2 separate regions of the Homo sapiens genome follow, and region 2 is linked to region 1. Evidence: fine-mapped expression QTL. A gene starts in region 1. The other region holds a variant in brackets. All regions are shown on one strand. Distances are from middle to middle.

Region 1 (2,500 bases):
TATATAGTATTTTAATTTACTCATTTCACACGTCGTTATCAACTCTACATGAAGTTTAAAAGGACAAAGGATGCAAGTGGAATTGGTCAGTGTTCCGGGTTATTTCCAAGGGAGGCAGAGGGTGGGGGGTTTCCTTTGAGACAAGACTTGGGGTTGGCCAATAATTGCTGGTATTGCCTGCCTGGTAATAACAGGCTGATGAAAAGGTGACTACAACGTGAAAACTGGTTAAATCAAGCGCACCCTCCCACCCTCGTTTTAGATGAGGAATTTTCCGCCCTCACAGAAGGGGCTGAGGCAGCATCTGGCATCACAACACTAACATTTGCTTCGTGATTTCCTCTTTACCCGGCCCTTTGACACACATCCCTTCCCAGAAATCAGGATTCGCTGGTGCTTTTGCATTTCTAAAATGGGAATCCCGTGGCTGAGCTTTTAGCCGGCCGGAACGACTGAGGGCTGCATCCCTTTCCCGCAGGAGCGGGGCTCCCGCCTCCAGTTCTGTTCCAGGCCTGACTCCTCCACTCCCTCCGTGACTCATGTCCTGCGGATCCTTCGCCCCCGACGCGCCCCCCAACACACAAACCCCCAGAATCCGCCCCCAGCCTACAGCGCGACGTCAGCCCGCCCCAGCCGACTTGGAGGTCTCGGGTCTGAGTCACACAGAAAGACCACCCTCGTCGGCATCCCCACACACAGTCCGACACCCGGCGCGCCGGCCTCCCCGCCTGACACACTAACGCCCGTCGTCTCCGCGCAACTTGTTATGCTCCGGCTCGAGCCCTTGACCCAAAACCCTCAGCGAAACGGAGAGCCGCAGAGCCGGCCTCGGGCGGCCTTTGATGGCTTTGTTATTGTTTGGGTTTGAATCGATACGCCCCTCCCCATCCTTCCTCCCTCGCGGCCCTACACCCAGCTCCCGCCTCCCCTCACGCCCCGCGCCCCTCCCCCTCCATTTTGGCGCCTTTTCCTTCCCGCCACGTCGTGGCGGCGTAGAGACCATTCTGACCGCGAGAGCTGGGCGGGGCGGGGGCGGGGCGCGCCGAGTTATGCAGATCAATCGGCCTCTGGTTGGCTGGAGTAGCGCTGGCAGGGGCGGGGCCGGGGCGCGGCCACAGAGCGCGCGGGGCGGGGGCCGAGGGGAGTCGCCCAGTCCCGCCGCTTCCCCACCCCCTCTCCTCCCTCGGCCGGCCCGGCAGCCCTGCTCCCCGCCTTGGCCTCCCGGAGAGGCCCCGCCCCGTCCCCGCCCGCCGCGCCCTCCCCGCGCGCCCTCCCCGCCGGCGCGCTCCTCCCCTTTACTCCTGGCTGCGGGGCGAGCCGGGCGTCTGCTGCAGCGGCCGCGGTGGCTGAGGAGGCCCGAGAGGAGTCGGTGGCAGCGGCGGCGGCGGGACCGGCAGCAGCAGCAGCAGCAGCAGCAGCAGCAACCACTAGCCTCCTGCCCCGCGGCGCTGCCGCACGAGCCCCACGAGCCGCTCACCCCGCCGTTCTCAGCGCTGCCCGACCCCGCTGGCGCGCCCTCCCGCCGCCAGTCCCGGCAGCGCCCTCAGTTGTCCTCCGACTCGCCCTCGGCCTTCCGCGCCAGCCGCAGCCACAGCCGCAACGCCACCCGCAGCCACAGCCACAGCCACAGCCCCAGGCATAGCCTTCGGCACAGCCCCGGCTCCGGCTCCTGCGGCAGCTCCTCTGGGCACCGTCCCTGCGCCGACATCCTGGAGGTTGGGATGCTCTTGTCCAAAATCAACTCGCTTGCCCACCTGCGCGCCGCGCCCTGCAACGACCTGCACGCCACCAAGCTGGCGCCCGGTGAGAGCACCCCCCGCCTCCGGCCCGGGGATGCGGGGCGGCGGCGGGATCTCCTGGGTGGGGAGCTGGCGGCTCGCGGGCCGGCACTGAGTCCCCGTGCTTCCCCCTTTCCTAGGCAAGGAGAAGGAGCCCCTGGAGTCGCAGTACCAGGTGGGCCCGCTACTGGGCAGCGGCGGCTTCGGCTCGGTCTACTCAGGCATCCGCGTCTCCGACAACTTGCCGGTGAGTGGGCGCCCCGCGGTGGGGAGGGCGCGCCGGGCGGGGGGCGCACGGGCGTGCTTTAGCCCGGACGAGGGAACCTGACGGAGACCCTGGGCTTCCAGGTGGCCATCAAACACGTGGAGAAGGACCGGATTTCCGACTGGGGAGAGCTGGTGAGTGCCCTGCAGGAGCGACCCCCAGGATGAGTGGGTGGGGTGAGGGGCGCCCCCGACTCCCGCCCTAACGCGGCCCCCTCGCCCCTGCAGCCTAATGGCACTCGAGTGCCCATGGAAGTGGTCCTGCTGAAGAAGGTGAGCTCGGGTTTCTCCGGCGTCATTAGGCTCCTGGACTGGTTCGAGAGGCCCGACAGTTTCGTCCTGATCCTGGAGAGGCCCGAGCCGGTGCAAGATCTCTTCGACTTCATCACGGAAAGGGGAGCCCTGCAAGAGGAGCTGGCCCGCAGCTTCTTCTGGCAGGTGCTGGAGGCCGTGCGGCA
Region 2 (3,007 bases), 89 kb before region 1:
ATACTTCCATCTTTGTTGTACAGAAACATTCCAAGGAATAGGACTGTTGCTCATGTTGAAGACCATTTTAAACTCTCAGGTTCTAGGCTACACATGGCTCTTGCCCCAGCTCCTTATTTAATCCTTGCATGCTAGGGAAGGGGTCTACCTCATTAGCACAAAAGGAGGCATTGAGGAGGATGGGAAGTGTGGTCTGTGAGTCTTTATCCATTTCTTGAGCACTTGTACTACACTGGGCTTGGGGATTGTAGTGAAAAATAACTTTTCTTGGCCTATCATAAACAACACTGTAATGAACAACTATTATTTTCCAAAGAACCATTGCAACCAGAGAGTGAAACCACATTTGGGGTGCAGAGAATCTGTTCCTGGGTCACCTATGAGGCCATACAGCCCTGTAGCGCCCCTAGGTGCCTAGCAGGGGGACGGAATCTGTACAATCCCTGAGGTGCTAAAGTGCAGAATGAAGCTTCCCTGTTTAAGTGGGAATACAGTAAGCACATCACAAGCATAGCTCAGACATGGGCAAGACTTACCACTTATGTCTTCCTCCATATTCTTCCCTTTGATCCTCACAACACCCTTGTGAAGCAGGGAGTATAGACTTAAGTTCATTCTACAGATAAGGAAACTAAGGCTCAGGGCAGGAGACTTGCCCAAGGTCGCACAACTAAGTAATGGGGAGAAACTAGACTCCAGTGACACCACTCCATGCCTCTAATCAACATTATCACCTGATGAACTGCACATTACTGTCAGCAAAGAATGCATTCCTTCCTTTACAAGGGGCTTTGTCAACATGGGATGTAGGACCCAGGTTTTTTATTTTTTATTTTTTTTAAGAGACAGGGTCGGCTGGGCGCAGTGGCTCACACCTGTAATCCAAGCACTTTGGGAGGCCGAGGCAAGTGAATCACCTGAGATCGGGAGTTCGAGGCCTGCCTGGCCAACATGGTGAAACCCCGTCTCTACTAAAAATACAAAACTTAGCTGGATGTGGTGTCCCGTGCCTGTAATCCTAGCTACTCAGGAGGCTGAGGCAGGAGAATTGCTTGAACCCAGGAGGAGGAGGTTGTGGTGGGCCAAGATTGAGCCTCTGCACTCCAGCCTGGGCGACAGAGCAAAAATCCGTCTGAAAACAACAACAACAACAACAAAAACAGGGTCTTGCTCTACCCATGCTGGAATGCAGAGGCATGATCATAGCTCACTGCAGCCTCAACCTCCTGGGCTCAAGCCATCCTCCCGCCTCAGCCTCCTGAGTAGGTGGAACTATAGGTGTGCTACCTCCACACCAGCTAATTTTTAAATTTTTGTGCTGGGCAAGGTGGCTTACGCCTATAATCCCAGCACTTTAGGAGGCAGAGGCGAGCAGATCACTTGAGGTCAGGAGTTCAAGACCAGCCTGACCAACATGGAGAAACCCCATCTCTACTAAAAATACAAAATTAGCCAAGCGTGATCTTGCATGCCTGTAATGCCAGCTACTCGGGAGGCTGAGGCAGGAGAATCACTTGAACCTGGGAGGCAGAGGTTGCAGTGAGCCAAGATCGTGCCATTGCATTCCAGCCTGGGCAACAAGAGGGAAACTCTGTCTCAAAAAAAAAAAAAGAAAGAAAGAAAGAAAAAATTTTTTGTAGAGATGGGGTCTCGCAATGTTGCCCAGGCTGGTCTCAAACTCCTGGCCTCACGTGATCCCC[C/T]GGACCCGGACACTTTGATTGGGAGTGGAGGAAAGAGCCCAAAAGGTCTGGAGCCTGTGGCCTGAACCTCAAGGCCACTCCTGGCTGTGTGTGTGTTTTCTTTGGTGGGGAGGTGGGGTGGAGAAGGGAGGGAGGAAATGAAAAGAGAGCTCTTCAGAGAGGAGCAATACAGTCATAAATAGGTATCACTGTCAGGGAGCAGCTCTTATTCATCTTTGCATCCCCAGCGCCTTGCACATAGTAGATGCTCCATGCAGGCTCCTAAACTGAAGACATAACCCCCAGCCCCTGGGATGATCTCTCCCGTGCTCAGTCCTGCATGGAGACCTGTGTGTATTCTCTTCTTGGCTCCCCTCACACTCATCCTAACTTCTCTTGCCCCATCTTTCTCCACACTCTCAATCTCCAATGTCTGCCCCTTCTCACTCCCCTCCCCTGCCAATCACTGAAACGTCAATTAATTGAGACTCATGTCCCTTAGAAACAAACTCAGGTCTATAACTGAGGGCTCTAGCTAAGCAATTCTTTGATCTCAAGGACTCTTTCTAGCTGGGGCTCTAGACCGTATTTAAGTATTAGGTTTCTTTTGAAAATCTAAGCAAAGGTAGAGATCCCAGGAAAATACCCACCCAGCAAAGATGTGCCTTCGGTGTCAGGAGTTCACGTCTGGACCTTCTGAGAGCTGTGGTTGGGAGAGGCTGTCCTGGTGGACAGTGCAGTCCATACCCCTGTGAGGCAGCGGGTTTCTGCAACCTTCCCTCTGCGTGGGAGACTACTCGGGATTTGTCTCCCACACAGCCAAAGGCTTGTCCAAAACTAACAGGTCCACCATCCCTTATTCTCAATTTCAAAATCCCTGAACTTCTGAAAACCATATGATAAAACAAGTTTTATCATAACACATTTGACTGCAGAACTTAACCTGACATGAACTTATTTGGCAACAAAATGGCCTCCAACTGACGCAAGGCTATTTACAGCCTTTATTTACACCATTTAGTGTGTGAATATTCATGGACTTTGCTTAAAAATATTTATGTGTTTACCAGGTGCTGCCCCAGATCCTGCGGTGGGTATTTCATAATATACAGTGTGCGCACCATGGCTTTTTTCTAAACGGTGAAAAAATCTGAATTCGGAAACCTATCTGGCCCCAAGGGTTTCAGGTAAAGGACTATGAATCTGTAGCTATAAAAATTTCTCCTAAAAAAGTTCACAGGCTGGCTGGGTGCGTTGGCTCACGCCTGTGATCCCTGCACTTTGAGGGGCCGAGGCAGAAGGATCGCTCGAGCCCAGGATTTCAAGAT

Direction of the effects. Positions count from the first base shown, and alleles are read on the strand shown. Sizes are in standard deviations (SD) of each study's normalised expression.
With allele T in place of C in region 2, the expression in neutrophils of the gene that starts at base 1,298 in region 1 is higher (large effect, 0.78 SD a copy in BLUEPRINT).

What was found.
Region 2: its variant is fine-mapped to the expression of PIM1 in neutrophils (BLUEPRINT, PIP 0.95).

Annotation. Positions count from the first base shown.
Region 1 is chr6:37,168,855-37,171,354 of GRCh38, forward strand. It overlaps PIM1 (Pim-1 proto-oncogene, serine/threonine kinase), which reads left to right and starts at 1,298. Exons shown (of 6, transcript NM_002648.4): 1 at 1,298-1,803; 2 at 1,919-2,025; 3 at 2,127-2,177; 4 at 2,271-2,500. The coding sequence starts at 1,722. RefSeq lists an enhancer at 543-1,141 and silencers at 767-1,546, 1,807-2,126.
Region 2 is chr6:37,079,499-37,082,505 of GRCh38, forward strand. No RefSeq gene overlaps it. Among named protein-coding and RNA genes, the nearest start is that of FGD2, 75 kb to the left of the region's middle. The variant C/T (reference allele first, on the strand shown) is at 1,701.